3 separate regions of the Homo sapiens genome follow, and regions 1 and 3 are each linked to region 2. The links come from fine-mapping of genetic effects on gene expression. A gene starts in region 2. Each other region holds a variant in brackets. All regions are shown on one strand. Distances are from middle to middle.

What was found.
Region 1: its variant is fine-mapped to the expression of RAB43 in whole blood (INTERVAL, PIP above 0.99).
Region 3: its variant is fine-mapped to the expression of RAB43 in coronary artery (GTEx, PIP above 0.99).

Annotation. Positions count from the first base shown.
Region 1 is chr3:129,203,667-129,211,845 of GRCh38, forward strand. No RefSeq gene overlaps it. Among named protein-coding and RNA genes, the nearest start is that of CNBP, 24 kb to the left of the region's middle. The variant A/AT (reference allele first, on the strand shown) is at 4,537.
Region 2 is chr3:129,117,192-129,125,370 of GRCh38, forward strand. RAB43 (RAB43, member RAS oncogene family) reads right to left here and starts at 4,613. Exons shown (of 3, transcript NM_198490.3): 1 at 4,095-4,613. The coding sequence starts at 4,298. The region is part of intron 11 of ISY1-RAB43 (ISY1-RAB43 readthrough); the gene reads right to left. RefSeq lists an enhancer at 2,697-3,642 and silencers at 4,423-4,602, 4,623-4,842.
Region 3 is chr3:130,012,644-130,020,822 of GRCh38, forward strand. It overlaps the pseudogene VPS51P10. Among named protein-coding and RNA genes, the nearest start is that of TRH, 42 kb to the left of the region's middle. The variant T/C (reference allele first, on the strand shown) is at 3,497.

The sequences.
Region 1 (8,179 bases), 86 kb after region 2:
CCTCCTATGTTGACCTCCCAAACTGCTGGGATTATAGGTGTGAGCCACCATGCCCAGCCTGGCTACTTTTAAGTTTCCATTTCTCTCCAGCAATAACTAATCTTTTCATTCATTATGTCTGTTGTAACCTTTAACATATTGATAATAGTTGCTTTATATTTAAATTTTTGTTAATTTATTTAGAGATGGGATCTTGCTCTGTTGCCCAGGCTGGAATGCAGTGGTACAGTCATGGCTCACTACAGCCCTAAACTCCAGGAGTCAGGTAATCTTCCTGCCTCAGCCTCCTGAGTAGTTGGGACTACAGGCAGGAGCCACTGTGCCCAGAGTGTCCTCATACCTTAAATGCACAATTTCTGTTGCTTACAGTCCAATAACCATTACTGAGTGCTATAGAAATACCAAAAAAACATACATTTTGAAAACAGTCAGAACAGGGTTTGAATCAGGACTTTATCTTGGAGCAAGTTCTTCAACCTCTGTGAGCTCAGTTTTCTTGTCTCCAAAACATAGATCATCTTCACATGACTTTGTGAGGCTTAAATGAAATGAGATTGCATATGTAAAAGTGCCCAGCTCAAGCCTAGTATTTACTGGCCACTGAATAATTATTAGTTTCATTCCCCCTGTACCTATATTATACAAAAAACAAAAGAGGCATTAAAATAGACATCATATTTCTTCATGTGAAAAGCTGTTTTATACGGTTTTATACACAGTTTGAATAGGTAGGAATAATATACAAATTCTGATCAAAATCATAAAATAAAGCTAGGAAATTTTAATTAGTTGAAACTTTAGAAAAACTAAGTAAATAAACTAAATAACTGAATAAATTTAGAATTAAAAAGTAGATATTACCCGAATTTTGGTATGTAAATGAATGTAAAAAACATATAGCCAAAATCACATTAGCAAAAATTCTGTTTCTGCATCAGCCCTGAACCTGCATTTGCTTATAAGTAACATGGTAATTTAACAGGATTCATTTAATTCTTGGCTCCTACTAAAGAGACACTGTCCCTGCCCACGGGCTACACTCCAATAGAGAAGAATACAGAACCAAATGCAGTAGAACTCTGGCAAATGATTCAATAATTCATTCTTCAGTTAATAGGGTTGCAAAAAAAAAAAGTACACTCAGCAAACATTTATTGAGAACCTACTGTGTGACAGGCATGTTCCAGGCACTGCAGATGACACAGAGGATCATCTGGCTTATGGAGTTGTTGTTGTTGTTGTTGTTTTTGACACAGGGTCTCTCTCTGTTGCCCAGACTGGAGTGCAGTGGCATGATCTCGGCTCACTGCAACCTCTGCCTCCCAAGCTCAAATGATCCTCCCACCTCAGCCTCCCCAGTAGCTGGGACCACAGGTGTGAGTCCCAGCTAATTTCTGTATTTTTTGTAAAGATAGGGTCTCCCTATGTTGCCCAGGCTGGTCTCGAACTCCTGGCTTCAAGCAATCCACCCACCTTGGCCTCCCAAAATGCTGGGATGATAGGTGTGAGCCACTGTGCCCAGCCTTATGGAGTTTACTTTACCAGGGCTGTGTTTAGAGAGAGCTTTGCCAAAACATAAACACACAAACACTGCCAACGGGAGAATGCCACGTAGTGAGGTAAGCAAACAATGGCAACAACAAAGTTCTCCCGCTCTCAGCCAAGAAAAGCCCAACTCTATGCCTTAGCAGAATGACCAAGTAACACTGTCCTGGACCTTCAGGGTCACCAGAGAACAGGCCAAACTAAGACTGCTTCAGCCTACAAATGACAAGAGCCTACCATACAAGCAGAGTATTCTATGACACCAGGACACGCTAAAGCCATGTGGGCCTCTGTGGTCTAGGTTTGCCTCTCCCTGCAGCCACATGGGCTGTGGAGAGTTTTTGGGAGTTTCCTGCCTTCATGCCCTGCACATACTCTGCCTGGACCACTCTTGTGCTTGCCGTTCCTGCCAACTCCCAGGTGAACCACGCATCCTTGGGTCACAGTCTTTGCAGGCAGTGACCCACACACCCTCAGGAGGAGATGCCCTGGCAGAGCCCCGCCCCCACTCCATCAGGTATGCTATGTACTGGGCTGAAAGGTTCTACAGAAACACATGGGGGCTTCCCCACCAGGATGGCTGCTCCTAGGACAGGACTGGGTCACAAGTATTTTCTGTCTCCCTAGTGCTGGCCTAGAGTAGGTGCTTACAGCCATTTGTTAAATTGAAAGGGACAAGTGTACAAAGGCAGGCTGAGCCTGTCATCAGCCTGGCCACATTGTGTACGTGGCAGAATGATGGCCCTGGATACTGACCCCCTGCGCCCACTGCATCTGACACCGAGTCTGACTTAGAACTTTAATCTGGAAGGATTTTTTTTTTTTAATTTCTAAGTCTCCACCTCACCACTTTTTTTTTTTTTTTTTGAGACCAAGTCTCACTTTGTTGCCCAGGCTGGAGTGCAGTGGCATGATCTCAGCTCACTGCAACCTCCACCTCCTGGGTTCAAGCAATTCTCCTGCCTCAGCCTCCTGAGTAGCTGGGACTACAGGCATGTACCACCATGCCCAACTAATTTTTGTGTTTTTGTAAAGAAGGGGTTTCACCATGTTGGCCAGGCTTGTCTTAAACTCCTAACCTCAAGTGATCCCCCAGCCTGAGCCTCCCTAAGTGCTAGGATTACAGACGTGAGCCACTGTGCCCTGCCCACCTCACTACATTTTAAGTTGATTTTTTTAAAAGGGTCAGTGTTCATTAAAGGAAGACTAAACAGATTTCTGGTTGTTTTTGTTGTTGCTGTTTTAGAGACAGGGTCTCCCTCTGTTGCCCAGGCTGGAGTGCAGTGGCACAATCCTAGCTCACTGAAACCTTGAACTCTTGGGTTCAAGCGATTCTCCCATCTCAGCTTCCCAAGTGGCTAGGACTACAGGTATATACCACCATGCTTGGCTAGCAGATTTCTGTTTTACAAGCCAAGGCCTTCTGCAGCTTTGGAGTGGATTCTCTATCTGAATGTTTTATTGTGGTAAAATATACATAATGGCCGGGCGCGGTGGCTCACGCTTGTAATCCCAGCACTTTAGGAGGCTGAGGTGGGCGGATCACGAGGTCAGGAGATCGAGACCAAGGTGAAACCCCGTCTCTACTGAAAATACAAAAAAATTAGCCGGGCGTGGTGGCAGGCACCTGTAGTCCCAGCTACTCGGAGAGGCTGAGGCAGGAGAATGGCGTGAACCCGCGAGGCGGAGCTTGCAGTGAGCAGAGATGGCGCCAATGCACTCCAGCCTGGGCGACAGAGTGAGACTCCATCTCAAAAAAAAAAAAAAAAAATATATATATATATATATATATATATATACACACACACATACATATACATATATATACGTATATATATATATGTGTGTGTGTGTGTGTATATATATATACACATAACATAAAATTTACCACTTTAAGTGAAGAGTCCGGTGGCACTAAGTACATTCACATTGTTGGGCAACCGTCACCACCATCCATCTCAGAACTTTTTTGTCTTCCTCAACTGAAACTCTGTCCCCATGAAACACTAACTCCCCATTTTCCCTTCCCCCACCCCCTAGCAACTGTCATTCTGCCTTCTGTCTTTATGAATTTGACTACTCTAGGGCCCTCATGTAAGTAGAACCATACAGTATTTTCCTTTTGTGACTGGCTTATTCACTTAGCATGATGTCCTCAAGGTTCACCCATGTTGTAGCTCATGCTCAGAATTTATTTCCTTTTTAAGTCTCTAGTTGAATTCTTATCCCTTCATTTCGCTTCAAATTAAAACAACACAAGTCAGCCCTGATTTTGCAAACAAATGTGCCAAAGTGACATAAAGGCACGATGCAGCCTGAGAGGCCTGTCCACGCTGGCTGCCAGCCACTGTCTCCAGAGGCTGCCTTTGCAAGGATGGTCACTTGGATAAGGGGCTTGAAGCTCTCCCTATTGATGGTGGCTGAGAAGTAGCAGAACGTTAAGTTTTCTTTGCCAAAACAGAATCTAAATTGTGCTGAATCAGAGCAACTATAAACATTGTTTGCTTTTAAATATTTTACTTTATCCAGCAGGCTTTCAGATAATCAGCTTGTGTTCTGGAACTGTCTTTCTGAGAAATAAACACAAATGAGTTGGCAGAGTCCACGTACAAAATATCTCAGGCTGTCCCAGCCTAGGACAAGCCAAGTAAATATAAATCATGGATTTTATAGCATTATATAAATCTTTATAAAAGGAATGCATTAATTGATTCAAGGACATTTGTAGTCTATATGAAACTAGCAATACATAAAATATTTTATGTTTTTTTCTTATACTTTAATATTCTACTCTCTCTCTCTCTCTATATATATATATATATTTTTTTTTTTTTTTTTTGAGATGGAGTCTCGCTCTGTTGCCCAGGCTGGATGGAGTGCAGTGGCGTGATCTCGGCTCACTGCAACCTCCGCCTTCTGGGTTCAGGCAATTATCCTGCCTCAGCCTCCCAAGTAGTTGGGACTGCAGGCGTCTGTCACCACGCTTAGCTA[A/AT]TTTTTTTTTTTTTTTTTTTGAGACGGAGTCTCCCTCTGTCACCCAGGCTGGAGTGCAGTGGCGCGACCTCGGCTCACTGCAACCTCCACCTCCCGGGTCCAAGCGATTCTCCTGCCTCAGCCTCCTGAGTAGCTGGGACTACAGGCGCATGCCACCACGCCTGGCCAATTTTTGTATTTTTGGTAGAGACAGGGTTCCTCCATGTTGGCCAGGTTGGTCTCAAACTCCTGACCTCAGGTGATCTGCCCGCCTTGGCCCCCCAAAGTGTTGGGATTACAGGTGTGAGCCACCGTGCCTGGCCAGCTAATTTTTGTTTTTATTTTTATTTTATTTTATTTATTTATTTTTTTTTTTGAGACGGAGTCTCACTCTGTTGCCAGGCTGGAGTGCAGTGGCACGATCTCGGCTCACTGCAACCTCTGCCTCCTGGTTCAAGCAATTCTCCTGCCTCAGCCTCCCGAGTAGGTGGGACTACAGGCGCACGCCACCATGCCTGGCTAATTTTATTTTTTTATTTTTTTATTTTAGTAGAAACAGGGTTTCACCATGTTGCCCAGGCTGGTCTCGAACTCCTGAGATCAGGCAATCTGCCCGCCTCGGCCTCCCAAAATGTTAGGATTACAGGTGTAAGCCACTGTGCCCAGCCTATTTTATTTTCTTTGAGATGGAATTTCGCTCTTGTCACCCAGCCTGGAGTGCATTGGCGCGATCTCTGCTCACCGCAACCTCTGCCTCCCGGGTTCAGGCAATTCTCCTGCCTCAGCCTCCCAAATAGCTGGTACTACAGGCATCCGCCACCATGCCTAGCTAAGCTTTGTTTTTATTTTTATTTTATTTTATTTTGAGACAGAATTTCACTCTTGTCACCCAGGCTAGAGTGCAATGGCACGATCTCCGTTCACTGCAACCTCCGCTTCCTGGGTTCAAGCTATTCTCTTGCCTCAGCCTCCTGAGTAGCTGGGATTACAGGCTCCCGTCATCACGTCTGGCTAATTTTTGTATTTTTAGTAGAGATTTGAATTCCTGACCTCAAGTGATTGCCCACCTCAGCCTCCCAAAGTGCTGGGATTACAGGTGTGAACCACCGCACCCAGCCCTCCTATATAGATATATTTCATATAATATTTTCTAAGTACAGTAATTTTATCACCTCTTCTAGTCATCAGTTAATCAAACCGAAGTCAAAGAAATAACTGCTGGTGTCTCTAGAAAACAATCCAACCAGGCCAGGCGCAGTGGCTAATGCCTGTAATCCCAACACTTTGGGAGGCCGAGGCGGGTGGATCACTTGAGGTCAGGAGTTTGAGACCAGCCTGGCCAATATGGTGAAACCCCGTCTCTACTAAATTTACAAAAGTTAGCTGGGCGTGGTGGTGGGTGCCTGTAATCCCAGCTACTCGAGAGGCTGAAGCAGGAGAATCGCTTGAACCTGGGAGGCAGAGGTTGCAGTGAGCCGAGATCATACCACTGCACTCCAGCCTGGGCGACAGAGCGAGACTCTGTCTCAAAAACAAAACAGAACAAAACAAAAAGTTAAACATAGACTTACCATATGACCCAGCAATTCTACTCCTAGGTGTATACCCCAAAGAATTAAACACAGGGACACAAACACCAATGGTCATTGAAGCATTAGCATTGTTCACAACAGCCAAAAGGCAGAAACAACTCATGTTCATCAATAGATGAACAGGTACACAAAACACGGTATATACTCTTCAATGGAAGATTACTTGGCCTTAAAATGGAACGAAAATAGGAAATAACAAGTGGTGGCAAGAATGTGGACGAATTGGAACCCTCATGCATTGCTGGTGGGTCTCTCTGGAAAACAGTTTGATGAGTCCTTAAAAATTTAAACCAAACCGCCATATGATCCAGCAATTTCATTTCTACGTATATATTGCAAGGAATCAAAAGCAAGGATTTTAACGGTTTTGTGTATACCAGTCATCATACCAGCATCATTTACAATAGCTGAAAGGCACAAGTAACCCAAACATCCAACAATGGATTAATGGATAAACAAAATGCAGAATGGAGTATTATTGCACACACAATGAGATATTATCCAGCCTTGAAAAGGAATGAGATTCTGACACATGCTGCAACAGGGGTAAACTTTGAGAATTGTATGCTAAGTGAAATAAACCAACTACATATGGACAAATGAGATTTCACTTATATGAGGTATGCGGAATAGTCTAATTCCTTGAGACAGAAAGTACTGGTTGCCAGTGGCTGGGGTGAGAAAGAATGGGGAGTTAGTGTTTAATGAGTACAGAGTATCAGTTTGGGAAGATGAAAAATTCCGGAAATGGAGAGTTGTGATGGCTCACAACAATGTGAATGCACTTAATGCCACTGAATTTTACATGTAAAAATGGTTAAAATGATAAATTCTAAGTTATGTATGTTTTACCACAATAAAAACAAACAAAAGCATGATATTGGCTGGCTGTGGTGGCTCACACTTGTAATCCCAGCACTTTGGAAGGCCGAGGTGGGCGGATCAGGAGGTCAGGAGACCGAGACCATCCTGGCCAACATGGTGAAACCCCATCTGTACTAAAAATACAAAAATTAGCCGAGCGTGGTGGTGGGCGCCTGTAGTCCCAGCTACTCAGGAGGCTGAGGCAGGAGAATCACTTGAACCCGGGAGGCAGAGGCTGCAGTGAGCCAAGATTGCGCCACTGCACTCCAGCCTGGGCGACAGAGCTAGACTCTGTCTCAAAAAAAAAAAAAAAAAAAGCATGATATATTCAGCCCCACCAAAAACCAAAAGGAATGAAATTCTGATACATGGTAGGTACAACACGGATGAATCTTTTTTTTTTTTTTTTTTGGCTGGAGTGCAGTAGCACGATCTCGGCTCACTGCACGCTCCGCCTCCCGGGTTCACGCCATTCTCCTGCGTCAGCCTCCCGAGTAGCTGGGACTACAGGCGCCCACCACCACGCCTGGCTATTTTTTTTTTGTATTTTTAGTAGAGACAGGGTTTCACTGTGTTAGCCGGGATGGTCTCGATCTCCTGAGCTTGTGATCCGCCCGCCTCAGCCTCCCAAAGTGCTGGGATTACAGGCGTGAGCCACCGCGCCCAGCCAACACGGATGAATCTTAAAAACATTTCTAGGTTAAATGTGCCAGGCACAAAAGGACAAATATTGTATGATTCCAGTTATAAGAAACATCTGTAATAGGCAAAATCCAGGGAATTTGAGGCTGCAGTGAACTATGATGGCACCACTGCATTCCAGCCTGGGTAGTCGACTAAGCAAGACCCTGTCTTAAAAAAATAAATAAAAGGGGACAAATTCATAGAGACAGAAAGTGGGAGTTATTGCTTAATGGGTACAGAGTTTCTGTTTGTGGTGATGGAGAAGTTTTGGAAATAGTTATCAGTGATAGTTGCACAATAATATAATTAATGTCACTGAATTGCTGCCTAAAAATGATTAAAATGGCAAATTTTGTTATATACATTTGGCCACCAAAATAAGAAAGAAAACAAACCAACCAGCCCTTCAGTGGCTCTGTAGCTTTGCAGAATGAAAACTCCACAGCCCCATGACTGGCAGGGAGGCCCCATGCTGGCTCCACTCGGCCTCTGCAGCCCTCTCTTCCCACCAGTTGCCTCCTCGG
Region 2 (8,179 bases):
AATGGTTTATCTATTCAAAAGTAAGTCATGGAAACTTTATTTTAAGCATGTTCAAAGTTTTCTGACAACCCTAAGAAAGAGGCAGAGCAAAGACCATTAGTCCCATTTCACAGATGAGGAAGCCTGAGGCTCCAAGGAGAAAAAAAATGAATTGCCCAAGTCTGTGGCAGGGTTGAAGCAAGACTCAGAACTTCAGACTCCTAGTCCAGTGCTCTCTGTCAGAGACTCCACAGTATGCAAGATAAGCAGCACTCAGATTCACTTTATAAGTCCAGTTCTCATAGCTACAGTCAAATGCATCCACAAGAACACTGGAAATGATCACCATATACAAAGCCTTACTGACTCGTACAGCAGTGTCTCTGAGCCGTTTGGGTATATCTACACGTTTTGGTTAATAATAAACCAAACACCCTAAAACTCTTTAACTGTCAACCCCAATCTTTCTAAAATGCCCCATTCCACATTCTTCTCTCAGTGAATGCAATGGCCACAACTGCATTTTTATTAGATCCATTCACTTTCAGAATCTCACGGTCATCTTTATGAACTCAGAGCAAATCAGAAGGGTGGTCAAGTAAAAATGAAGACTGGGCTTAGGAGCCAGCCAAACCCTTGGTTTTGCCACAGAGTTGTAAGTGACCTTGGCCTCAGCTTTCTCTCTATAAAGGAACCAATTAACAGGCACATATTGGACACCATGTGTTTGACACTGGCCCACTGGATCCCTGTGTCTTCAAGGAGCTTACCTTCTATAGGGGCAGACAGAAAAAAACAGTTAATTTGAAGCTGTGGTAAGTGTTATGACCAGATACAATAGAGTTACAGAATAGAGGACCTGGGAGATCAGGCAAGGCCTCTCTGAAGATGTGGCATTTGCGTTGGGACCTGAATGATGAAGTAGCAGTTACGTGGGGATCTAGAGGCAGAGTATGATGGGCACGGGAAGAGATGCAAAGGTCCTGAGGCAGGGGTAAGCCCACCATGTTGAAGGGCTAGTGAAGCTGGAGAGCAGGCAGTGAAGGGTAGAGATGGGCCTCTGTCTGCCTCTCCAACTTTGTCTCCTTCCAGAGGTCCATCTCTTTGGGGAAGGTGTTTGGAGGTTATTCTGGTTGTAATGGGAAGTGGCTACAGAAATAAAGTAATTTGATTAAATCTGTGATTCTCAAATGTTTCGGTTTTTTTAGCAGGAGAATTCTTTAGTCAAATAACAAGAATTTCAACCTACAACTAGATAAAGGTATTGCTCTGACTGGTTGGGAAGCTAGTTAAAGCCCTTCTGACCCTCTCTCTGACCTCTTGGCTTTTCTCCTTACCTTTCAGTACCTCCAAGCTCACAGGAGCTAGAAAACCACCAGGTGATCCATCTCTAAGCTTCCTGAAGCTCTAATAAAACCCAGCATCATTGTAAAGAATCACAGGGAAAGCTTTAGGATATAAGACTGGATGCTTGCTGGACAAGCATCTCGGGCTTCCCAAGACAGGCCCTGAGAAGGTTTATTTTATTTTATTCTAAATAGATACCACGTCTCACTATGCTGGCCAGGCTCATCTCGAACTCTTGACATCCAGCAATCTTCCTGCCTCGGCCTCCCAAAGTGCTGGGATTGCAGGCATGAGCCACTGCACCCGGCCCCTGGAAAGGTTTTACACTGAATCCCTGATGTGCACTTGCTTTCCACAGAAAAAACAACAATAAGCTCTGGTTCATCAAGGCTTTCAGTTAAAATCACACTGCTGAAACTACAGAGACAAAAAACAGATCGGGGGTTGCCACAGGATGAGGTGAAAGGAACTGACTACAGAAGAACAAAAGAACTTTCTGGGTTGGTGGAAAAATTCTCCATCTTGATAGTGATGTGGCTGCTTGTCTGTGTAAGTTTGAGAAGTTCATAGACCTGTAACACCTCAAGTGGTGAAGGTTTACCGTGTGTAAATTAGACCTCAAAAAACTTGACTTAAAATCACATTGCCAAAAGACTACTCAGAGGCACTTTACAGATGGAGGAGGGAAAATGGCTTGCTCCTGCTGCGGCAGCGGACCCCAGGAAGCCTGACTCGAAGGACAGTGTTCCCTCAAGTTCACGGCTGCCCAGCTTTAATTTGGAGCCTCTGCAGTGAGTTAGACTTCAGGTTTTCCTGCCGGCAAAATGAGGTGGTAAACAATTGCCAGAGGCTTCCCCACCACAGACAACGGGATTCTGAAAAGCTGTCCACTATGGGGGAGAAATCTGCTTTGGAGTCAGAAAAACTGGGAAAAATATTCCCACCTCTATCACTTCTTAGCTGTGTGCCCAGGCTCCATCCTGTGTGAGCGGGGGTAAGAATTCCCTCCAGTCAGCAGAGAATGCACCTGTAACCCAGCTGATTCCCAACAGCCTCTCAAGAAGGTCAGCGGCTATAACTTGGAGAGGTGTTTACCACAGCTACACAGCTCTTCTGCTCCCTGGGCCCCGGGCTGCTTCCTAGGAAGGACAATCTGGAGGCAACCATAAGGAAAGAAAATAACGAACTGCCTGGCCCTGCATTGCATAACCCGTGCGCAGTAAACCAGGAGCTCTGCTGGGACACAGTCTGTTATCTCAACAGGTAAACAGGAACCCTGCCCCCTCCCTGACCACCGTCAGCACTGGGCCACCACAGACACTCCAGACACAGACCGATAGCACATGAGGAGGACACCACTGCTCTTTAGCCTGTATTTTCACACTCCCATTTCCCTGCAGCTGCTGGCATCATCACTGGGCACACTCAATAACGGACACTCCACCCACTCCAGCCCTTCCCTGGCTACCTGCTCCAAAAGGGTGGTCCCGAGTGACTCAAAGCTGCCTTCTGCACCTTGCTCTTTTCCATCCACGGAGACCAAAACACAGACCCCAGAAGACGATTAAAATATAATAATAATAAAACCCCTCAGGCAGGAGTTTCTGCTTCCCCGTCACATCTACTGAGAGGCACTGTGGACACATAAAGACTGTTGACTTACTTTTTTCTCCACCTTGGGGCAGGAGGGAGGCAACACCCAGAAATTATCCCAATTTTATAGAAACAAAGACAAAGAGCTACATATCCTAGCCAAAGGCAACAAGGAGCAGGCCTAGAGCCACCCGGAGAGGCAGAGCCCAGCAGCAGCAAGGCTCCAGTGACTCCCATCTCCCTGGCAGAGATCGTCCCAGCCCTGTGCCCTGAGGGTGTCCTGAAGATCATGGGGGCTCGAAACCATGAAAGCAAGCAAAGATTTCTGTACAGTGCGGTTCAGAAAAGTTACTGAGTGCCTTCAGCCCAGGATCTCCTGGTTGATTAGGGAGTACTAACACCTAGGTTAAGAAACTCTGATTTCATTCATCACAAATATTTATCAAACCACTGCCAGGACATTGTGGCAACCACATCCTGCTGTTTTTATTCGGAGCCATTGCCAAAGCTTGGTTCTCTCCCCCACCTTCCGGTATCTGTGAAGTTTTCAGTTTCTATCAAACTCCAGCTGGGGGAGGGAACCGGGGCTGGCCCTAGTCGAGTAAAGTTCCACCACCAGGTCCACAAAGAGACTGCAGGGAGGCGTGGCCAGGCCGGAAATTCTGACAAAAAGTTTTGGCCCTCTGGTCCTAAAAGCAACTACTTCCTGATCGCTCCTAGTCCTGGGGTGGGGATGCAGTTCTCTGGCTGAGTGCCCCGCCGGTGGGCTGAGCTGGGGGCTGCCATCGCGGTGGATGGAGGTGGGGGGTCTGATCTCCGCACTCCAAGGCGCTCCGCTAGTACCTGGAACAGGGGAGTCTAACCCCCTGCCTTCCAATGGCTAAAGTTATTTTGGAGCACAGTCCCCTCCTAGGGTGTGAGCTCCGGAGGGCAGGGCCGCCTCCTCCACACTCCCTCGCCCCCCCCCCCCCCAGCAACCCACGGCCGGCGCTTTGAGGACTTGAACCCGGCCCAGACCCCGGGGCCCAGGCCTGCTCCGACCCGAGGAAGGAAAAAGGGGAAGCCAAAGGAAACTTCAGATGGACGCGGGGTGCGCTCGCCGCGGCCAGGGGCTCCGCTGCCCCCGCCCCACCCTCCGAGGGAGCGCCTTCCAGGGGCCCTGGCCGGCCTCCCACCTTGACCCGCTTGCCCTGGATCTCCAGCGTCTTCATGGTGAAGTCGACGCCGATGGTGCTTCCCTGGCGCTCCGAGAAGGCGCCGGTCTTGAAGCGCTGCACCACGCACGTCTTGCCCACGCTTGCGTCGCCCACCAGCACCAGCTTGAACAGGAAATCGTACTGCTCGTCCGGGTCCCCCGGGCCTGGGCCCGGCCCTGCCATGGCCTAGAAGAAGCCGAAGGGCCGGCGCTCTGGACGCTGGGACCGGCCTGAGCTCACGCAAGCCGCGGGCCGAGCTCCGCCCGCTCCAGCCCACGGGCCGCCTGGCTACGTGGAGCCGCCGCAACACCTGAACCCCCAGCACTGCCGACCGCCTGCCTCGGCCTCGGCCCCGCCCCACCCCGGCTGGCTCCCGCCCCGGCCCGGCTCGGCCCCGCCCGGACCCGGTGCCCCGCGGGTTCGGCTCCCCCCCGGACCCGCCAAGCCGGGCCCTCCGCAAAGCTCCGGCCGGTCCTCAGCTCCGTGCCACACCAGTCTGGCCTGTAGGCCCGCCCCAGCCCGCCCCCGCCCGCCCCCGGCTCCGCCCTCAGGCTGGCACCCACTCCGCCCCCAGCCCAACCCTCGGGCCCACCTCAGCCCGACCCGGGTTCCGCCTACGTCCCCGCCCCCGACTCCGCCCTCAGCTCCGACCTCGACTCCGCCCCCAGGCCCACCTCAGCGCGCCCCGACTCCGACCCGACTCTGCCCTCAGCCCGACCTCGACTCCGCCCACAGGACCACCTCAGCCCGCCCCGACTCCGCCCTCAGCCCGAACTCGACTCCGTCCCCAGCTCCGACCTCGACTCTGCCTTCAGGCCCACCTCAGCCCTCCCCGACTCCGCCTTCAGCCCGACCTCGACTCCGCCCTCAGGCCCACCTCAGCACACCGCCCCGACTCCGCCCACAGGCCCACCTCAGCCCGCCCCGACTCCGCCCTCAGGCTCACCTCAGCTCTGACTCCGCCCCACCCGACTCCGCCCTCAGCCCCGACCCCAGCCCGACCCCGCCCTCAGCACCTCGGCCCCTCCTCCATCAACACCCCGGCGCGCCCACACCGCGGATCCGTCTGGCCCCCAAACCGCTGCCCACCCCGACCCTTCATCAGCTGGGACCCCCAGGTGCTGTCCCGCGCCTCCTGCTCGCCCCCCACCCAGGCCTGGTCCGCCTGCCCGGGATCCCCTACCTGCTGCCTCCCAGACCGCCGGTCAGGGACAGGCGGAGACCATGGCTGGAGCTCCGGGCCTGCAGGCCTAGACTAAGAATGACCCCCTCCGGAATGGATCACGGAGGAAGGGGACGACCACAGCAGTGTCACCTGAGTGCCCACTCTGACAGGCGGGCAGTGCAGTCTCCGAGAGTGGTGGGGGTCGCTCTTCCCAGGGGCGGAAGGGAAGGGAGGGAGCAGGCTGCAGAAGGCCAGAATCCAGGCTGGCTACAAAACTGCGGAGGAGCCCAAAATCCTTGTGAGGAGAGGACCCAGGGCCCCATTTGATGGGAAGCTAGGCCAGAAGGAGGAGCTGGGAGCTCTTGTCTCCAAAAGGCAGCCTAGCAGTGGTTGAAGCAGCTGCTAAACGGCTGGATGACCCAGCTCAGAGCAGCTACAGGCCCATTTGGGAAACTGACCCAGCCAAAAAGCACCAGTCTAGGAAGAGGAACAGAAAAACTTGAAGGGATTTCTGAGGAAGGGCAGACCAACTCCTGAGTTGGCCCAGTGAACCAGGGCGCCTCAGAGAAAGGAGACCCAAACATCTGTAAGAAGCTTATACTAGATCCAACAGGACTGGGCTTCCCAGCTCCGAAGATGGGAAGGAATTGACAGCACCCCTTACCCCTCTAGACAGCTTCCTTGTGGCACTCCAATTCCAGGTATTCAACATATTTAATGAATGGCTACTACAGGCGGGCATTGTCCTGGGGCCTTGTAATGCACCTGTGGACAAAGCAGACAAAAATCCAGGAGAAAAGGGGAAAGTCTTCAAGCTGAAGGAGACTTCGCAGAGAGCAAGTCCCCCAGTGCCACTGTGAGGACCCCAGCCAACCTTTCAGGTCAAGATAGAAAGGGACTGAATGAGCAGTCTGCAAAGGCAGACCCCGTGGAGAAGGCAGAAGAGTTGTTTCTTCTGAAAGTTTGAACTCCACTCCCATGGGAAATACCCAACAGAATCAGACAGGAAACCCCAAAGTGCCACTGAAAAGCAATTGAGAGCCCCACTTTGGTACACCTGATGGGAGCGGAGAGTTAGAGAGGCAGGAAATAACCTCCACTCCAGGGTAGAAGTAGACAGGAGATGGGATGGAAGGTTTCTGCATGCTGGGACTAGCTCAGGTCAAAGTCCAGAACTCCAGAAAACAAGGCCTGCCCCCAGCTCAGAGCAGCTACCACAGCACAAAATGGTGTGGAATCCAGGAGCCAGGATGAAGCGTAGGGGTAGACGGTGGTTGGATAGCTAACTGGCCTTTCCACTGCTCTAGCCTGGAACTGGTTGGGCTGGGGCAGGGGACATGTTGGTCTGAGTATAGATTTTGTCAGAAAACCCAGGCACCACTCCCTTGCCTTTGCGGGGTGATTCTAAAATTGGACTGTGGTAAGGGTTGCACAACTCCTCAAGTTTATTAAAATCATTAAAATGTAAACTTACAACCTGTGGGTTTTATGGTATGTAAATTATACCTCAATAAAGCTGTCTAATATCTGCATTTCCTCTTTTGGTGGTAAATTCCTGAGTAGCACAGTGGCATTTTATTTGAAATGGAATCATGCTAATTTGAAATGCAGCAATTAAAAAATATTTATGTTTCATTTAATACACCAAATTTGAAAAAATGTATATTGCACTTTTTTTTTTTTTGAGACGGAGTCTCGCTCTGTCACCCAGGCTGGAGTACAGTGGCGCGATCTCGGCTCACTGCAAGCTCCGCCTCCCGGATTCACGCCATTCTCCCGCCTCAGCCTCCCGAGTAGCTGGGACTACAGGCGCCCGCCACCATGCCCAGCTAATTTTTTGTATTTTTAGTAGAGACGGGGTTTCACCGTGTTAGCCAGGATGGTCTCGATCTCCTGACCTCATGATCCACCCACCTCGGCCTCCCAAAGTGCTGAGATTACAGTCGTGAACCACCGCACCCGGCCTATATTGCAAAATTTTTAAAATAGGTCAAGAATTTAGTTGCCGGGCACGGTGGCTCACGCCTGTAATCCCAGCACTTTGGGAGGCTAAGATGGGCGGATCACGAGGTCAGGAGATCGTGACCACCCTGGCTAACATGGTGAAACTCCGTCTCTACTAAAAATACAAAAAATTAGCCGGGTGTGTTGGCCGGCGCCTGTAGTCCCAGCTACTCAGAGGCTGAGGCAGGAGAATGGCGTGAACCCAGGAGGTGGAGCTTGCAGTGAGCCAACATGATGCCACTGCACTCCAGCCTGGGCGACAGAGCGAGACTCTGTCTCAAAAAAAAAAAAAAAAAAGAAAGAAAGAAAAAAAAATTGGTCAAGAATTTAACTTTTTTTTTGAGACAGAGTTTCACTCTTGTTGCCCAGGATGGAGTGCAATGGCCTGATCTTGGCTCACTGCAACCTCAAGCAATTCTCCTGCCTCAGCCTCCCCAGTAACTGGGATTACAGGCGTGTGCCACCACACCCAACTAATTTTCGTATTTTTAGTAGAGACAGTGTTTTGCTGTGTTGGCCAGGCTGGTCTTGAACTCCTGACCTCAGGTGACCCGCCCACCTCGGCCTCCCAAAGTGCTGGGATTACAGGCATGAGCCACCATGCCCGGCCAAGAAACATATTTATTTTATTTTATTTTTGAGACACAGTCTCACTCTGTTGCCCAGGCTGGAGTGCAGTGGCGCGATCTCTGCACACTGCAACCTCCGCCTCCCGGGTTCACACCATTCTCCTGCCTCAGCCTCCTGAGTAGCTGGGACTACAGGCTCCAGCCACCATGCCTGGCTAATTTTTTATATTTTTAGTAGAGACGGGGTTTCACTGTGTTAGCCAGGATGGTCTCAATCTCCTGACTTTGTGATCCACCCACCTCAGCCTCCCAAACTGCTGGGATTA
Region 3 (8,179 bases), 900 kb after region 2:
TAACATCCTAAGCTTTGAGAGATCTAGCATATTGTTAATTGAAGCTAGATTTCAATTACACTGAGAACCTTATCTATTTAAAAATAAAAACTCTCCTAAAAAAAACAAATAATCCACATTCCTTTTAACCACATGTGGCAAATTTGTAAAAAGAAAAAAACAAAAAAAAAAAACCAAAAAAAGAAAAACAACTGGCCACATATTAGGCCATAAAGAAGTCTCAACAAAATCCACTATACTATTGACATTGTCCAGACCAGATTTTCCTGACCATAATGCAACAAAATTAGAAGTCAACAGCAAGAAGATAGCTAAACACAAGCATACATTTGGAAAATTAAAAATATCCTTTCATGAGTTAAATGAAAAATTACAATAGAAATTACTAAACATTTACAACTGAATGAAAACACAACTTTATATATATATGTATATTTTTTTTTGTGAGTCTTCCAACTTTGTTCCTCTTCTACAAGGTTATTTGGGAAATTCTGGGTCTCCTGCAGTTCCTCATAGAGTTTTATGCTGTTTGTCAATTTCTGTGGCTGGGATGAACTTATCGTAGTTCTCATAGACCAGGGTTTGCATGTCGCTGTCTAGAGCCCGGATCTGCTGCACCATGTCCGTCTCACTGTCCATCAGCTGGGCCAGAGGGCACTCTCTAGGCAGCTTGTCTAGTTAAACTTCCGGGTCGAAGTGTGCCCCATTCAGATCAGTGGGGTCCAGGGGGTCGGGCCCAGCGGGGAGTCCCACCGCCTCCCATTCTGAGAGGCCGTTGTAAAGCTTTAGCATCCTGTGCGCCTTCCGCCGACGCTCCGTGAACCTCCCCACCGGGGCCTTCTGCGGAGTCCCCAGGTCCACACCCCGGGCTAGGCCCAGTGACAGCTGCCGCCGCCATAGCTCTAACTGCAGCCCACGGGCGTAATTTTTTTTTTTAAGTTGGATACATGGAGCTACTTGGCTTTTGCTTTCATCATATCGTTGAGGAAAGAGGTGGTTGCTTATGGTACCCCTGTTTTTACTGCAACCTGTAATGGATGAGAACCTCCCTGTTGCAGAGAGCAAAACACTGAACTAAATTGTGCTGTAACACAGCCCTGTGTTGGGGGATTGGGAGTGATCATGCAAACGCTTGCAAATTTGCACAGAGACAGAGACAATCACTGTCTCTGTCAGTGTGATTTGGGCAGCTGTTCACTATATGAAAAGGCAATTGACCAAAAGTCAGTTACCGAGCTATCTCAATACTTTCATTTTATTTTAACTTTTGGCAGCAGGGTACAATTAAAGGAGAGAAAGAAAACAAAGTGATAAGTGTAAGATAATGTACACACGTGTGTAAAAGAAAGTGACAAGACAGGATGACTGTTTGTCTCTTAGTTAGCTCCTTGGGCTCTATGTCTCCTTCCTCAGAGAACCTCATTTTCCTTTGTCCAGATGTGTTAGGGTGGATAATCCAGGCGTCTGCTCCCCCATGATGGAAGCCAAAAACATCCCTGGAGCCGCCTCCCGCTGCACCCTTTCCTGCACTGCCCACATGGACACAACTCAGCCGATTAGACTTCCTCTCAGAACTTTAGTCTTGAGCAAAGGGATTAAAGGGCGAAGTGACTGAAGGTATGCCCTTCCAAAGTGGTACGTGAGCTAATGGCTAAAGTTTGCCAAGCCCATCCAAGCACATTGTTTCATAATTTTTATTTATTTATTTTTTTAAGACAGAGTCTTGCTGTGTTGCCCAGGCTGGAGTGCAGTGGCGTGATCTCGGTTCACTGCAACCTCTGTCTCCCGGCTTCAAAGGAGTCTCCTGCCTCAGCCTCCCCAGTAGCTGGGATTACAGGCATACGCCACCGTGCCTGGCTAATTTTCTTCTTTTTTTTGTATTTTTAGTAGAGACAGGGTTTCACCATGTTGGCCAGGCTGGTCTCGAATTCCTGACCTTGTGATTCGCCTGCCTCAGCCTCTCAAAAGTCTGGGATTACACGTGTGAGCCACCGCGCCCAGCTTCCAAACGATTTAAGCAGAGCTCAGAGGTCTTAACCACAGGCACATCGGAGGAGCATTTTTGAAACACTTTCCAGATTCCTCAATAGGAATGGAAGCCAAACGCTGAATTGATGACTCCTTTGAGGAAGTCAAGAACTGTAAGGAAAGCCAGGAACAGGGACAAGGGAGATATGCGTCCCGAATGATCCTGTGCCAATTCCTTCTGGAATCCTCGATGTGATCTCAGCTGCCCCTTCTAAACATGACACAGTGATTGTGGCACCCACTGGTCTAGCTGTGGTCTACAATGAACCTCCAAAGGGAAGAGCAGAGTGAGCAGGGGCATCGGCCTGAGTGACAAGGATTTGAGAGGGCAGGTTGGATGCAGGGAGAGGACTGGCCAAATGCCATGTGTCTGGACTTAGACTGCCTGGTTCAAATTGGACTTCACCCTTTCTGACTTCGTGATCTGGTACAAGCTACATGAAAATCCGTTGCTCCTTTTCTAGTCTGTAAAATCATCATGAAATGTGAACTAATAACATGGAGACTATGCAGATGAAATGAAACAAGCTGCATAGAGCACAGAGCTCAGAGCCAGGCCTTCAGTAAGCCCTCAGTAAGGGTTCATGATGCCATGGTGTCTGTCGTCATCCTCTTTATCCTCATCACCTTCATAATCTCTTTTTTGTTCTTAGGGAATAGTTTAGAGGGACTGATTCCCTGCTATCATGGGTGAGATGTCTATAAAAAGGACAACCAGTGGGGGAGGAAAGCAAAATTTTGAATAAGATTTCTGAGACCCCCACCACAACCAAGAACAGAAATTCCAGTATGCTGAGCACAGAGTTTGCATATTGCTCTCCTCACATCTGCCCACCGCAGTCTCCAGTACGTCCTAAGGATGAGGAAACAAACAAGGTTCCCGACCGTCCCTCAGCACTCACTTGAAGGGGTGGCCTGTCCCTCCACACCTGTGGGTATTTCTAGTCAGGTGGGATGAGAGACTGAGAAAAAAAGTAAGACACAGAGACAAAGTGTAGAGACACAACAGTGGGCCTAGGGGACCGGCGCTCAGCATACCAAGGACCTGCACCGGCACTGGCCTCTGAGTTCCCTCAGTTTTTATTGATTATTATTTTTATTATTTTAGCAAAAAGGAATGTAGTAGGAGTCAGGGTGATAATAAGGAGAAGGTCAGCAACGAAGATGTGAGCAATAGAATCTATGTCATCATGAAGTTCACGGGAAGGTTCTATGACTGGACGTGTACGTAAGCCAGATTTATGTTTCTCTCCACCCAAACATCTCAGCGGACTAAAGAATAACAAGGCAGCATTGCTGCCAACATGTCTCACCTCCCACCATAGGGCGGTTTTTCCCCCATCTCAGAATTGAACAAATGTACAATTGGGTTTTATACCGAGACATTCAGTTCCCAGGGGCAGGCAGAAGACAGCGGCCTTCCTCTCTCAACTGCAAGAGGCTTTCCTCTTTGACTAATCCACCTCAG[T/C]ACAGACCCTTTACTGGTGTTGGGCTCGGGGACGGTCAGGTCTTTCTCCTCCCATGAGGCCACTTTTCAGACTATCACATGGGGAGAAACCTTGGACAATATGCCGCTTTCAAGGGAAGTGGTCTCTGCGGCTTTCCACAGTGTATTGTGCCCCTGGTTTATTGAGACTAGACAATGGCGATGACTTTTACCAAGTATACTGCTTGGAAACATCTTGTTAACAAGGCACGTCCTGCACAGCCCTAGATCCCTTAAACCTTGATTTCATACAACACATGTTTTTGTGAGCTTCAGGTTGGGTCAAAGTGGCTGGGGCAAAGCTACACATTAACAACATCTCAGCAAAGCAATTGTTGAAAGTACAGGTCTTTCTCAAAATGGAGTCTCTTATGTCTTTCCTTTCTACATAGACACAGTAAGAGTCTGATCTCTCTTTCTTTTCCCTACACTCACTGAACTGCCCTTCCCCTCTGCTGGGCCATGACCATGGAGAACAGGTCCACTGTCCTCCCTGTGTGGTGCAACATGGAGGCTCAGACTCCATCCTCAAGGCTGGCAAGAAGACAGGGTGAGACGTGAGCCTCTTGATACAGGTGACGGGAGTGGAGCCCACAGGACTGGAACCTCACACTACAGGGCTGGAGGCACAGACTGACTATTTACTATTTTGTGGCCTGGGGGGCTCAAGGCACAGAGCTCCTTATTAGCCAAAGTCACCCAACTTCCCCAACCTCTAAGGATTTCCTCATAATAATGCAAGAAGAAGAAGAGAAAAGTGAGTGTCCATAGAAGCTTTGGGGCTCTTCCTCTAATCAGGAGAAAGCTGGTGTGTATTCTTCGCTTCTTTCTTTTCTTTTTAAACATCCAACTGCTTTAATTTTCATCTTTTATTATGGGAAAATATACCTCGTATAAATATTAAAAATTATAAATATATATTAGTTCATATAGAATGGCCAGTATAAACCTTTACAGTTTCCATGCTTTTTCACTTTACAGTTTCATGACATGAAGTACGTTCACATTGTTTAGCAACCATCACCATCATCGTCTCTGGAACAGTTTTATCTTTCAAAATGGAAATTGCACCCATTCACCAAGCTCTCCACTCCTCTCTCTCGCCCGCCCCTAGGGGCCACCTTTCTAGTTTGCAACTCTATGAATTTAACTACTCTAGACACTTGATAGATAAGTGGAATCATACCGTGTTTAATTTTTTTGTTTTGGAAACAGAGTCTTTCTCTGTCACCCCGGCTGGAGTGCAGTGGCGTGATGTCACCTCACTGCAGCCTCCACATCATGGGTTCAAGCGATTCTTGTGTCTCAGTCTCCCGAGTAGCTGGGATTACAGCTGTGCGCCACCACGCCCAGCTAATTTTTGTATTTTTAATAGAGCCCATATTGGCCAGGCTGGTCTCGAACTCCTGACCTGAAGTGATCCGCCTGGCTCAGCCTCCCAAAGTGCTGGGGTTACAGGTGCGAGCCACTGAGCCTGGGAGTGTTTATCCTTTTGGGATTTATTTATTTCACTGACGATAATGTTTTCAAGGTTCATCCATGTTGCAGCCTGCGTCAGAAGTGCCTCTCTGTTTTTTTTTTTTTTGTTTGTTAGTTTTTTCTTTGTTCGTTTGACTTTGTTTTGTTTTGTGTTTCCATGGAATCTCACTCTGTCGCACAGGCTGGAGTGCAGTGGCACAATCTGGGCTCACTGTAACCTCCGCCTCCCGGGTTCCAGCCATTCCTGTGCCTCAGCCTCCTGAGTAGTTGGGACTATAGGCACACGCCACCACGCTCGTCTCATTTTTTGCATTTTGAGTAGAGACAGGGTTTCACCAAGATGGCCAGGCTGGTCTTGAATTCCTGACCTCAGGTGATCCGCCCACCTCGGTCTTCCAAGACGCTGCGATTACAGGTGTGAGCCACCGCACCGGCCAGAAGTGCCTGCTTTTTTAAGGCTGAATAGTCTTCCATTGTATGAAGGAACTGCAGTGTGCTTTTTCATTCATCTGTCCACGAACCCTTGAATTGCTTCCACATTTTGGCTGTTGTGAATAATGCTGCTATGAATATGGGTGTACACAAATCTGTCTTCCACTCCTGGCTTCTAATTCTTTTTGGTAGGTACCCACAAATGCAACTGCGGGAACATCTGATCATTCTGTTTCTAATTTTTCAAGCACACACCATACTATTTTCCCCGTTCCTTCACGGTTTTACATTCCCTCAAATCACATTTGAGCATTCCTACTTCCCTCTAGTCTCACCAATGCCTGTTTGTTTATCATATCCATTCTAATGTGTGGTATCACATGATTGGTTTGATTTGCGCTTCCCTATGATGAGTGATTTTGAACATCATTTTAGATGCTTATTGGCCATTGCTATATCTTCTTTAGGGACACATCTACTCGAGTCTTCTGGCCATTGTTGATGGGATGCTTTGGGTTTCTTGTGGTTTAGTTCTAGCTGTTCTTCATATACGATGGATATCAGCCTCTTTTCAGATATATGCTTTGCAAATATTGTTCCTAATCCTTGGGTTATCGTTTCACTCAGTTCACAGTGTTTTTTGCTGCACAAAAGGGTCTGTCATTTAGATGTAATCCAAGGAATCTAATTTTGTTGCCTATGCTTTTGGTGTCATATCCCAGAGAACATTGCCCAATCTGATGTCATGAAATTGTGGCCAATCTTTTCTTTTAGGCGTATGATACTTTTGGCGCTTAGGGTGAGGTCTTTGATCCAGTTTGCGTTAATTTTTGCACCTGGTGTGACATAGGGTCCACCTTCAGTCTTGTGCTTATGGAAATCAAGTTTCTCCAACACCATTTCTTGAAAAGGCTGCTTTCCACCAATGAGCTTTCTTAGCACTCATGTGAAAAACCATTTGAACATATAGGTGAGAAGTTATTTCCGGGCTCCAAAACAAACAAACAGCAAGAGACAACAGATCAGGATACAGCATGGGCCGGGCGCGGTCACTCACGCCTGTAATCCCAGCACTTTGGGAGGCCGAGGCGGGCAGATCACCTGAGGTCAGGAGTTGAAGAACAGCCTGACCAACAGGGAGAAACCCCCGTCTCTACTAGAAATACAACATTAGCTGGGCGTGCTGCTGCATGCGTGTAATCCCAGCTACTCGGGAGGTGGAGGCAGGAGAATCGCTTGAACCCAGGAGGCAGAGGTTGCGATGAGCCAAGATTGCACCGTGACACTCCAGCCTGGGCAACAAGAGCGAAACTCCATCTCAAAACAAAAAACAAAATCAAAAAGCCAGCATCATTTCAGTAGCAGAAAGAGAAGAGCTTAAAAACCAGTATAATGAGAAAGTTAGGAAGCTTCTTACCAAAGCATCTGGAAATATGCAAGCAATTTTTGTGAACTAAAATTTTCATACTGTACTATCAAACACTAGAACTCACTTATTCCATCTTTCAGTATTTTGGGACCCAATTATCCACTTGTCTTCATTCCGGATTCCACCCCTTTGCTTCCTAGCATCTGCTAATCACCTTTATAGTTTCCACCTTCCTGAGATTCCTTTTGTGTGTAGGTGTGTGATGGAGTCTCTTTCTGTTGCCCAGGTTGGAGTACACAGGCACAATCCGGGCTCACTGCAAGCTCCGCCTCCCGAGTTCAAGCGCTTCTTGGGCCTCAGCTCTCCGAGTAGCTGAGACTACAGGCACGCGTCACCACGCCCGGCTCATTGTTTGTGTTTTCCGTAGAGACGGAGTTTCATCATGTTGGCCAGGCGGGTCTCGAACTCCTGGACTCAAGTGATCCGTGCGACTCGGCCTCCCACAGTGCTGGGATTACAGGTCTGAGCCACCACACCTGGCCAAGGTTTCCTTTTTTCTTTCTACATAGAAGTGAGGATGTGAAATATTTGTCATTCAGTGCTGGGCTTATTTCATTTAATATACATACTTGCAATCTCATCCATTTTGTCCGCAGCGGAGAGGAGTTTCTTCCTTTTTAGGCTGAATCATACTTCACCGGGTGTGTATACCACAGTTTCTTAATTGAAACAAATTTCTGAAGAGCAAATATTTTTAAAATGTCTCAGAATGTGAAACTTCAGGGATACTGTGCCCATTTTATTCTTTTCTATTTCCCATCTTATGTATATGCAAGTGTATAACAAAGCAGCAATCAATGTGTGTATAAATCTATAACTTTAACAAATGTAAAATGTAAATGCTAAGTGGTGTCTGGGCGCGGTCGTTCATGCCTGTAATCCCAGCACTTTGGGAGGCGGAAGCGGGCGGATCACCTGAGGTCGGGAGTTCAAGACCAGCCTCACCAAAATGGAGAAACACTGTCTCTCTCTTAACAATACAAAAAAAAAAAAAAAAAAAAAATTAGCCAGGCATGGTAGCGCATGCCTGTAATCCCAGCTACTTGGAAGGCTGAGACAGGAGAATTGCTTGAATATGGGAGGCAGAGGTTGCAGTGAGCCGAGACCGTGCCATTGAACTCCAGCCTGGGCAACAAGAGTGAAACTCTGACTCAAAAAAAAAAAAAAAGGAAAAGGAAGAAAGAAATAGAAAATGCGAAATGGTAAGAAAAAACAGCATAATAAACATTTGTATGGTGTTGATGGACAATGCATTTGAAGATAATATTTGAAGAAATCATATTACAATTAATTTCTGTTCTTACTCATTGGAGCTTGATGCCTCT